3 linked regions of the Homo sapiens genome follow. The protein of the gene in region 1 purifies or fractionates together with the protein of each later gene. This does not show direct contact. Each region holds a gene or a part of one and is shown in the gene's direction. Other genes may lie near its edges. The genes, in order: ABL2, KRABD3 and PACSIN1.

Region 1 (3,716 bases):
CTTGCTGTACTGGGCCAGGCTGGTCTTAAATTCCTAGGCTCAAGTGATTCTCCCACCTTGGCCTCCCAAAGTGCTGGGATTACAGACATGAGGCCCTGCATCTGGACTTTTTTTTTTTTTTTTTTTTTTGAGAGGGAGCCTTGCTCTGTCTCCCAGCCTGGAGTGCAGTGGCGCGATCTTGGCTCACTGCAACCTCCTCCTCCTGGGTTCAAGCAATTCACCTGCCTCAGCCTCCCGAGTAGCTGGGATTACAGGCGGCTGCCACCACACCTGGCTAATTTTTGTATTTTAGTAGAGATGGGGATTCACCATGTTGGTCACACTTGTCTCGAACTCCTGGCCTCAAATGATCCGCCCACCTCAGCCTCTCAAAGTGTTAGGATTACAGGCGTGAGCCACTGTGCCCGGCCTGTTTTTTTTTTGTTGTTGTTGTTATTTTAAAGGTATTTTAAATATATTCCTCTGAATATCATCTTTAAAGGATCTGACATGATTTTTGTCAAAATAAATCATAAGGTGTAACCAGTTTGTGGGTTCCTGGTGAGTTTCAGGCCAGGCGCGGTGGCTCATGCTGGTAATCCCAGTACTTTGGGAGGCCGAGGTGGGTGGATGACGAGATCAGGAGATCGAGACCATCCTGGCCAACATGGTGAAACCCTGTCTCTGCTAAAAATACAAAAATTAGCTGGGCATGGTGGCGCGCACCTATAATCCCACCTACTCAAGAGGCTGAGGCAGGAGAATCGCTTGATCCTGGGAGGCAGAGGTTGCAGTGAGCCGAGATCGTGCTACTGTACTCCACCCTGGGCAACAGGAGCAAAACCCTGTCTCAAAAAAAAAAATTAGCCAGGCATGGTGGCGGGCACCTGTAATCCCAGCTACTCAGGAGGCTGAGGCTGTAGAATCACTTGAACCTAGGAGGCGGAGGTTGCAGTGAGCTGAGATCACGCCACTGCACTCCAGCCTGAGGGACAGGGCGAAGACTCTGTCTCAAAAGAAAAAAAAGTTAAGTGTAAGCCAGTACACTGACCTCTCCATGAACTTTTCACAGTAGGAACTTTAACACTTTCCGCAGAGTATCCTGTTCTTCTAGGCTTTTCATAGAATGCGAAGTTAATGGCATGTGATGTTCCATAGCATAATCTGCTAAAAAGTGATCATCTCCTTGGAAGAAAAGCCGTGGGCTGCAATCACACATCCAAATTGACAGACATCTGAATGGATTCTATATAGAAAGAAAAGATTCGTGTCTTCTGGAATATGAATGTCCACTTTTAATAAATTCAAACAGATCCTGACATAAACATCATGGGTTTTACGTGACCCATCATTTCATGGATCCTTGGCACCAAATCTTTGGGCATTGTATAACCCAACCCACTGCAGTAGGGAGGAAACACCTTGAAAGGACACTCCTGGTATGAAATACGTTTTTTTTTTTTTTTGGTAAAATCCTCTATGGGAATAATTATCAATTAGGGGATAACCTGTGAAAAACTTCTCTGAGTGGTTTAAGTTTAAAAGATACTACACTAAATTGCCAGTATTGATGAACACATAAGTGTCTGTTGTCATGATGTAGTTGGCAATGGGGCAAAACTCAGTTACCCACCTGAATGCCATAATAGGTTGTTTTTGTTGTTTGTTTGAGACGGAGTCTTGCTCTGTCACCCAGGCTGGAGTGCAGTGGTGCGATCTTGGCTCACTGCAGCCTCCACCTCCTGGGCTCAAGCAATTCTTGTGCCTCAGCCTCCCAAGTAGCTGGGATTACAGGCACACGTCACCATGCCTGGCTAATTTTTGTATTTTCAGTACAGATGGGTTTTCACCATATTGGCCTGGCTGGTCTCAAACTCCTGGCCTCAAGTAATTCACCTGCCTTGACCTCCCAACGTGCTGGGACTACAAATGTGAGCCACTGTGCCTGGCCAGTTTTCAAGGTCAGGTTTTTGTATGTGTCTAAAAAATCTCGTTGGATTACATCACTATAAAGAAGATGTTAATCGTCCGAGGACAGTGCTAACAGTTTGTCTTCTCTTTTAGCCCGTTGGCCTACTAAGAAAAATGTGAGAACCTCATATCGCCATCAAGACTTTTTTCACCCCAAGTAACTCTAATGGCCTGTCTGGCTTTCACATCTGAGGGGTGGGAGGTCACTAGGATAACCAGAATTGGATTTTGATCAGAGCAGTTTGAATGCTCTCAAAATGTGAAGTGAAAGCCTCATCTGTAAATTGGCTCATACTTGTAAAAGTACATCCAGTCTACATATTCTGTCACATTGTAGTGGGGAAGGCTGAGAGGTACCACATCAGGAGGAGAGTCAGGAGTGGCAGCAGCAGGAGACCCCATGTGAGAGATCTCAGTGGGAAGGGCAGTCTGGAGAGCCAGGGCCATCCACAGCAGCTCAGAAGCTTGCGAACTGCAAGTTCTTCTTGATTGATTTCTTCTGAGTGAAAAGACCTTCAGTTTCACCAGTTGAACATTCAGCAGTATGTAGCTGTCAGAAATAATGCTACTGAAAACCAGACTTTCAGACTGGCTTAAAATCCTGCCATATACTGCTTATAAAACACATACCTGTAGAATTTCAGCAGAGATTAAAGCACTAGCTGAAGTTTGTTTTCTGTATTCCATGCTTTAGTCAAAACACTCAAGATTTGCTGTGAACTACTCCATAAACAGAAAAAAAGACATGGTTTGGTAATTTCTTCCTTGGTAGATTTTCCTGACAAAGTGACCATCGCCTAAACAAGGCACTGTCCTGTGCGGCACATACCCAGCTCACAAGTGGCAGGCAGCTGGTGCTCAACCTGCTTTAAACGGAAAACAAAAACCAAACAAGAAAAACCAGCATCTCCCCACCATTGTATGTTTTTATTCCTCTTTACTTCAGTCTCTTTCAAAATAGGGAATGATAATGTTTGTGTAGTTTTTAGAGCTTTTGAAGAAGACCTTTTATGTCTTTCATCTCACTTGACCTTTACAACTACTCTGAAATAGGTGAAGCAGGTATTAATCTTCCCATTTTGTAGATGAAGAGTTTAGAAAATTAAGTGACTTCTTGAGGTTACATAGCTGTTAAATGATAGAGCTGGGACTGATAGTTTTGTCTCCAAGTCTTGCCATAATGTGGAGATTTAGAGAATGTGGGTTTTAAAATCAGTTATAATTGGATATAAATCTTGCTTTGTGTCTGACATTGGTACATGGTTTATCCCTCACAACAGGTTGTTGAAATAATTAAGTGATAAAATTGTACGAGACTCTTAAGTGCCAGGCACTGTGGTGCTCAATAAATATCAGTTTTATTGTCATTATTTACCTCAAGATGATTGTGAAGATTATATGAGTTGTATGTGAAAATGTTTTGTAAACCTAAGCACTGCTATTGTTATCATTGTGATGGCATGCCAAAGTGTAGAATTGCCTTAGCATTTATATTTATTACTTCATTTTCTCTTCTTATTAAGCTACTCTTATTAGAGGACTTTCAGAAAGCAGTAAAAGGTAAGGGAATTTTGGGGATCTGAAATCACAGGAGAATCTGAAATCACTTTAGGTCTACCTTCCTTGTAAGGTAAGTGATATCCTCTCTAGACCATTTGTCTTTGTCTTAGGGACTGGGTATCAGTATATGTAGTGCCTGGTTCTTGTAGACATCTTTTTCTTCCATCAAAGAACTTGAACCAGAAACACTGGCCAATGCAAATTTA
Region 2 (3,716 bases), on another chromosome or scaffold:
AGCCCACACCTGTGGCCAACGCCCTCATGACAGCCGCAGGCCAGGCTTCTATGTGGGTGGCCAGGACAGGCCAGGCTTCTTCCACGGCAGCCAAAGCAGGGCCGCGCCAGAGCCAGGACTGACACGTCCAGTGCTCTGTGCCCAGCACCCCTGTGACCCCCCTTCCCTGGACACAGCAGAAGACAGGGGGCTTCTGCAGTTTGCAGAGATTGAGCTACAGTCCCCCTCATCTGTGAATGTTTGATCTTCACAGGAAGCCCACCAGGAAGCTCCCCACTGCAGGGTCTGGAGAATTGTCTCAAGGAGATACCTGTGCCTGTGCTGCGGCCTGCCTGGCCCTGCTCCTCAGCAGCAGACAGGGGACCGAGGAGAGCAGAGCCCAGGAACTGGACAGCAGACAAGGAAGGTAATAGTGGCTGCCGGGGCCCTGGGTGTAGACAGGGCTGCTCTGAGGATGCCCTAGGCGCTGCACCTGTGGGCTCAGATCTGCTCCTGAGCCAACATGGTGCTCTGGAAACAGACCTGGGCAGAGCCTTGTTGGAGGCCAGAAAGCCAGATAGTCTGCAGCACACACGTGTAGACCTGCTGGCACCTTAGTGCCACTGTCTGCGGTTCCACCATCCCAGCTGGAGCTGGCTCCTTGTGGCTGGGTGTCCTTGTCCCGGCCGTGCCAGCCCCACGAGCCTTGGTGTCTGGGCACCAGTCTCCAAGCCCAGGGGTCCACGCAGCTGGGTCTGGGAATAGAGATGTTCTGGAGGGTTCAGGCGCTCCCTGGAACATGACAGATGGGTGTTTCCCACACCTGATGCTGGTGTGCCTGAGAGCCCAGCAATGGCAGAAACTGTTCCCTGTCCCTTCTTCTGTGGCAGCACGAGGCCCCGTGGGGCTGACAGGCCTTCTGATTTCTCATTAAAACAGGACTGAGGGCTGAGGCCTGCGAGTCAGCCCGTCTCGGGCAGGGTAGGGGAGAAGCGCCCACCCGGAGCCTCCATCTGGTCAGCCCACAGGTGTTCACCTCCAGCTGCGTCCCCGCCTGCCACCAGCGGGGGTTCAAAGACCCTGGGGCCACCAGGCCAGGAGTGTGGAGGTGGCTCCCAGAGGGTGAGCTGGCACCTGCCCTCGGTACTGACAGCCCCACTTCAGTTAAAGTGTTTGACAAGGAAATAGACTTCCCTCTCTGTCCCTCTGTTTCTTCCCCATCTCTCATCCTTTCCCCAGAGGACAGAAGCTGGTGCCAAACAGAAACTGAGGTTCGCTAAACAAGAAGATAAAGTGTCACAAAGTGCTGACAAGGAGCGGGGTCGGGAAGATCATTGTTTGTGTCCATCCATTGGGTTTCTCCAGTGGAGAAGCTTCTTGAGGGGGCTCCCGCCGTCCACTGCTGCTGCTTGGTTTAACTTCCAGCAGAATTCCTTCCTAGATCTGCTGCAGGGCCTGCTGGGATGCCTTTGCTGAATAAATGCGGTTTTGCTGACCCTCCCATCAGACGAGGATGGGCCCTAACTGAGCCCCACCCTTGGGCTGCTGGCCCCTGTGAGATACTGGGGTGCAGGGATGGCACCTGCCTGGTGGGAGAAGCCGCCTGGCCTGTGAGACCTAGGCCTGGCTAGAACCTGACTGCTAATGGCTTCCAAGGACTGGAGACTTCCAGAAAGTTCCCCAGCAGACTTTCCAAAGCTGCTGGGGTCCTGGCCAGGCTCTGGCTTCACTTTTGTCCTCTTTCTCTGGCAAGAGAGGCAGCCATTTAGGGTCCACTAGAACGCATGCTGATCGTGGGCTGAGCTGAAAAGGGGACCGGTTCTGTGTGCCCAGACACTAAGGCAGAGACCTGGCTCTCTTCAGGCTGATGACAGAGCACTCTCTGGTCCCCTGCCCAGGGTCTGCCCCCAAGCCCTCCCCGCTGCACTGCCTGGAGAGCGCCCTGAGGGGGATCTTGCCTGTAAGGCCCTTGCGCTTCGCCTGCGTGGGAGGCCCCAGCCCCAGCCCCAGCCCCGGCTCCAGCTCGAGCTTCAGCGGCTCTGAAGGAGAAGACCCGAGGCCAGAGCCTGATCTCTGGAAGCCGCTCCCCCAGGGTGAGCCTGTGCGGAGAGGGAGGATAGCGGGATGTGTGCCAGGGCGCCAGTCACCACTCTGATGCCAGCTTTGTTTGTGACGTTAGAGAGGGACCGCCTTCCCAGCTGTAAGCCTCCTGTCCCTCTGTCCCCATGTCCTGGTGGGACCCCTGCTGGCAGCAGTGGCGGCAGCCCTGGTGAAGACCCCAGGAGAACAGAGCCCAGGTACTGCAGCGGCCTCGGTGCAGGTGAGCCTGGGGTCTCCTGAGGGGGCGCCCATGCGTTCCCCAGAGGACCAGGAGTCCAGACTGGATCCTTTGAGTCCTGCCTGTCGCTTTGCCTGGCTCTTGCCAGGGAGTCCTGCACATTGGCCGTGCTTTAGTTCCCTGTAAGGTGAGCTGTGTCCGAGAAGGAGGGCGGGGCTGCTGGGGGTGCTGGTGAGCAGCTGCAGGGAGGTCTGAGCCACTCACTTGATGCCACGTACACGGTGTTTGCGCTTGCTAATATACACGTGTGCATGTAGACAGATGTGGATGTATTTATACAATAATAGCGTATGCTTTTAAAACTTGGCAATCAATAACAAAAGTCTCAAAAGTGAGATTTCCCCAGCTGGGGGTACTTCTTGGAGAGTGTCCCATTAGGAAAGCTAGAATGCTGCCTATTGCCCCAGGCCACCTTGCTTCTCAATCTCACTGTGACCCACTGTTTGCTCCTAGCAGAAAAAGCAGATGGGACAGGAGACAGGTCCCAGTTGCCTGGGAGAAAAGAGAGTTTAGAGAGTACCTGCTGTCCTGGCCCCCTCAGGAGTGCTGGAGGACGAGGACGAGGAGGGAGAAGCAGTGGTAGAAGGAGGGAGAAGCAGGGGAGAAGGAGGAAGAGGCCAGAAATGGTCAGGGGAGGGAGCTCTCCCCAACTCCTGCAGCTGGCTCCATTTACAGGCATTGGCCCTGGTCTGTGTAGACCCAGGCTGCACCACATTCTTCACTCCGCAGTGGGCCTAGTGGAAAATGGCAGAGTGGGCTGGGTGTGGACCACAGGATGCCCCAGCACGCCCTTGGAAGTCTCACTGGGGCAGGACCCGCAGATGAGAGTCCTTTTTCCCAGCTGCCTCCCCAGCCGCCTCCTCCTGCCGGAGCCCCCTGCATACAGGGCAGGAACACCACACACACACGCACCGCGGCGGGCCCTGCCACCAGAATTAGGCTCCCTCATGGGCCAAGTTTCCGTCTTCTATCTCATTTAATCATTGTTTAAAAGTTGAGAGTTTGATATTGTTTTAGGGTATGTCAGAATGGCTCTGGCCAAACGATCGTCTCCCTGCCCCAAGGTCTCTGTGCTCTTTCTATAGGTACAGCTCAGGATCCCTGCCCGGTTTCTCAGCTGGAGAAAAGGCCCAGGGTTAGTGAAGCATCCAGAGGCCTGGAGCTTGGACATGGAAGACCCAGAGTTGCAGGTGAACTGGTGGCTTCCCCCATTCCCTCTGCACGGGCCAGGACCCAGAGCCCCAGCTTGGGGAAAACAGCCTTCCAGGGTCAGTGTTTGAGTGATGGGTAGGAAGTCTCACCTGTAATGCACTTCAGGTTGCATATTTCCTTTCAGTGTTTTATCACAGAAGCAGTTGGGATTTTCATAAAAGCAGACACACCTTTTAGAGGTGGAAAT
Region 3 (4,129 bases), on another chromosome or scaffold:
CGTTTTAGCCAGGATGGTCTCGATCTCCTGACCTCGTGTTCCGCCCGCCTCGGCCTCCCAAAGTGCTGGGATTACAGGCGTGAGCCACCGCTCTTGGCTCCCGCTTTATTTTTCTACTCTGTGCATACCACTTTAAAATACACTCTTGGCCCGGCGCAGTGGTTCACGCCTGTAATCTCAGCACTTTGGGAGGCCAAGGCGGGCAGATCACCTGAGGGCGGGAGTTCGAGACCAGCCTGACCAACATGGAGAAACCCCATCTCTACTAAAAATACAAAATTAGTTGGGTGTGGTGACTCGCGCCTGTAGTCCCAGCTACTCGGGAGGCTGAGGCAGGAGAATCGCTTGAACCCGGGAGGCGGAGGTTGTGGTGAGCCGAGATCGTGCCATTGCACTCCAGCCTGGGCAACAAGAGCGAAACTCCGTCTCAAAACAAAACAAAACAACAACAACAAAAACCAAACAAAACACTCTTAGCTGCTGATATTGAGTATCTATCTTCCCTCACACATGTGAACTATGAGATGGCAGAGTTTTGGTCTGTTCTGTCCTCTGCTGCAGCCCAGCCCCTCATCAGTGCCTGATACAGAACAGGCCTTCAATAGGTATGTGCCCCGCTCCTCCCTGCAGCGTCCAGGCTCCAGGCAGCATTCAGGGCTCAAGTTCGGAAGAGTGAAGGCCGTTGAGGGTCCCCTATTAGGCCCCAAGCCCCCTAGAGAGCTCCAACGACATGGCCTGGAGTTTGCTTTGGCGACAGCCGGTCCTGCTGGAACTAGGACATGAGGGTTAGCGATCCCGCCCCATGGGGTCACAGGGCAGAAGCTGCGGGCAGGGGTGGGCATCAGTGGGGCGGTGGTGCAGGGGGTGTCGCTCCCAAGTCAGCTCACACGCACGTCTTCAACACACCCACCACACAGGCACCCGCACGCACCAAGGGACGCCGAGGCTCGGGAGAGGAGGAAAGGCCAAGGCGATGGGGAGATGGGGAGAGAGGCAGGGAGCAACATCCCGGGCTCCGAGCGCGCCAGCTGGGAGGGCTGGGGAGGAGGGCGCACCGGAGGGCTCCCGGCACGCGCGGGGCCGCGGGCAGCCCCCAGAAGAGGGAGCCAGGCAAGACTGCTGGGGCAGGGGTCGGCTGAAGCAGCGGGGAGCCGGACCCCACCCGCCACCCGCCACCCGCCACCCCCGGCGCCTGCCAAACTGGTTGCTGCCTCCCCGGCAGCCGCGGCGCGTCCACCTGCGCAGCCACCGCGCCGCCCTGCCCGCGCTACCATTGGCTCGCTAAAAATGCCTCTCTAATCTGCTCTGCTCGGTGCACGCCTCCTCCTCATCCTTCCCCCCTCTCCGCCTCAGCTCTGACCTTCCTCCTTCCCGCAGCCCCGGCGAGATCCCAGAGCGACGCGGTGGCGGCGGCAGCGCCAGCCCCCTCCTCCCCCGGGAAGTCGGCCGGGCTTGAGGCCGGGCCCCAGACGTCCCGCTTCGCCCCGAGTCGCCGCCGATGGTCCCCGGAGCTCCTGCCCCCAGGTAGGAGGTCTGGCCCTTGAATAGAGGGCGGGGGGGTTGTGTGTGCGGGTGTCCAGTTAGGGAGTGCGTGTTGGAAGTGGGCGCCGGGACTGACATCTCCCTGGGCCAGAGCCCGGGCAGGGTTGGGCAGTTGCCTGGAGAGAAGCGGGTGCGCGTTCGGGGATGCCTTCAGGGGACGGAGTTCGCGGGCATCACCCAGGCAGTGCCAGGATGCCACTGCGCTGGGTCCCTTGGGGGAGCGAGCTGGCATCGGAGGCCCTTACCCCAGGAAAAGCGCCGGAAATAGGTTCCTTGGGAAGCTGGGGCCTGGGCCCGGGCGGTCCGGGTCTCTGGACTGCTACCAGAAGGGGTGGGTGGGCTGGTGCCAGCTTGGTGCATAGGCTATTTATGGATCAGAGTGGGCTGGGGAGAAACACAGCAGCTGATGCCTGTCTGGCTTATGGTTAAAGGTATTTCCTTCTGTCCCCTACCCCTTCCCCCACAGCTGGGATGGGAGCGGGGAGGGGGGAGGAGGCAAGAAGGAGGCGATAATGCTAAAAGGCCCCGCAGATACAGAAGCCATGGGCTGCTGGGCACTGCCCTCCCCTGCAAGCCCCAGGCCACTTGCTGCCTGTTGGAGCTGCCTCTGCCCCTTATTTTCACCTTACAAGAGGCTATGAAAAGGTTAAAGGGTCATCAGGGTGTAGGAGACATGGTGGCAAACCCGGGAGCTTGGCCAGACCCAGCTTCAAGCCCCAGCTGCCCCTACCCACAACAGCCCAGGTCTGCACCACATAGGCAGTGACACATATGGCCGCTTATTTCTAGGCACAACCATAAATAACCCACATTGCCCCAGCCCCTGGCACAGCTGGGGTGCAAACAGGACTGTCTGTCAGTGATTTTGCTTCCATCCTCCATCCTGGCCTTTCTATCACAAGTCCAAATCATCACCCTCCAGCAGCTTCCCTGATACCCCAGGTGAGATCCTTGCCCCCTGCCCTATGTTCTTGGACTGCCTTGTGGCTGGGTTATTTGTCTTGTTCATCTCCTTCTAGACCAGAAGTACCTTCAGGCTGGGAATCTGATTCATCTCTGTCATTGCCCCTGCACCAAAGCAGGGTTTGGCACCAAGAAAATATCTTGTGGAATGCATGACTTATTGAATGAGTGAATGTAAACTCTGGGAAATAGCTGGCAACCTGAGGGAGGGGGTCGAGCCCCTTCTTGGGCTTTCTCTCTATTCCCCAGGACCAAAGAGCCACTCCACTCAAACCAGGTGGTTCTCTTTAGTAGGCCCTTCCTTTTTTTTTTTTTTTTTTTTTTGAGAGAGAGTTTCGCTCTTGTTGCCCAGGCTGGAGTGCAATGGCACGATCTCAGCTCACCGCAACCTCTGCCTCCCGGGTTCAAGCGATTCTCCTGCCTCAGCCTCCTGAGTAGCTGGAATTACAGGCATGCACCACCACACCCGGCTAATTTTATATTTTTAGTAGAGACGGGGTTTCTCCATGTTGGTCAGGCTGGTCTCGAACTCCTGACCTCAGGTGATCTGCCCACCTTGGCCTCTCAAAGTGCTAGGATTACAGGCCTGAGCCATCATGCCCGGCTAGGCCCTTCCTAAGCCTGGAGTTGATGGGCAGCTATGCCTTTTGGAGATAGTGTTGCAACCTGCTGGCTCCAGAGGGTCTTATGGGCCCCTGGTTTGAGTGTCCAGGCCTGGTCCTGGCTTGAGGGAAGGCCTGATGTGAAGGTCTGGCTCTCCTCAGGCCGCTGGGTTGGCACTTTCTTCCCGGGGTGCCAACTTTAGACCAGAGTCTCTGCCTCTGTCCCAGCCCTTGGGAAAATCCAGGTCAACATCAGGGAAGCTGGGAAGGCCCAAGCCAGGCCTTCCTCAGCCTCTAAGGTCTTCATAGCAAGCTCTCAGGGGTCTCATGACCCTAGTGTGTGGAGGAGCAAACCCACTTCAGAGGAAGAGGCTGCCAACAAGGGTTCTGGCTTAGCCACAGGCCTGTGTCTATGAAGGACATCAAGATTTCCAGGCTTAGGAGGGGCCTAAAGAGAACTGTCTGGTTTGGGTGGCTCTTTGGTCCTGGGGAATAGAGGGAAAGCCCAAGAAGGGACTCAACCCCCTCCCTCAGGTTGCCAGCTATTTTCCAGAGTTGACATTCAGTCATTCAATCATTCATTCATTCCACAATGGCTCGCATTGCTATTTGACAGCCATGCAGTCTCCCTAACGTGGCTCTGCCACCATTCCCACACCCAGGCTGACTCTCCCTTCTTGCCCTCCCTCTGCCCCCTGGCTGCCCTGAGCTACTTTCAGTTCCTCAAGCAAGTGGGGCTTCTGTCACCTGCAGGCCTTTGCACAGGCTGTTCCTGTCTCCTCCTCTCCCTCTTCCTTCCCACCCAAATCTCTCACCCTCGGGAGTCCACTGAGACTCCTTTTTCCTCCAGAAGCTTCCCCAGCTTGGGCTGGGAACCCCACCCATGATCCCCTCCCCACAGCCTGGCTGCCTCCCCTGGGAACCCTCCCATCATGCAGTGTCCTCTCCCTGCTGGGCTGTGGGGTCTGTGGGGGCAGAGTCTGTGTGCTGTTTCCGGTGGCCCCATGGCCTGGCACAGAGTA

The links.
Region 2: the proteins of ABL2 (region 1) and KRABD3 purify together in Homo sapiens (co-immunoprecipitation; one large-scale study listed by IntAct). This does not show direct contact.
Region 3: the proteins of ABL2 (region 1) and PACSIN1 purify together in Homo sapiens (co-immunoprecipitation; one large-scale study listed by IntAct). This does not show direct contact.

The regions. Positions count from the first base shown.
Region 1 is NC_000001.11:179,219,523-179,223,238, reverse strand, and holds part of ABL2 (tyrosine-protein kinase ABL2), read left to right. Parts: intron 1-3,716. UniProt on the Homo sapiens protein: Non-receptor tyrosine-protein kinase that plays an ABL1-overlapping role in key processes linked to cell growth and survival such as cytoskeleton remodeling in response to extracellular stimuli, cell motility and adhesion and receptor endocytosis.
Region 2 is NC_000007.14:149,728,270-149,731,985, forward strand, and holds part of KRABD3 (protein KRBA1), read left to right. Parts: intron 1-253; coding exon 254-406; intron 407-918; coding exon 919-1,101; intron 1,102-1,218; coding exon of another isoform or gene 1,219-1,259; exon of another isoform or gene 1,260-1,482; intron 1,483-1,877; coding exon 1,878-2,072; intron 2,073-2,158; coding exon 2,159-2,299; exon of another isoform or gene 2,300-2,444; intron 2,445-3,402; coding exon 3,403-3,507; intron 3,508-3,716.
Region 3 is NC_000006.12:34,464,747-34,468,875, forward strand, and holds the start of PACSIN1 (protein kinase C and casein kinase substrate in neurons protein 1), read left to right. Parts: upstream 1-1,329; 5' UTR 1,330-1,524; intron 1,525-4,129. UniProt on the Homo sapiens protein: Plays a role in the reorganization of the microtubule cytoskeleton via its interaction with MAPT; this decreases microtubule stability and inhibits MAPT-induced microtubule polymerization.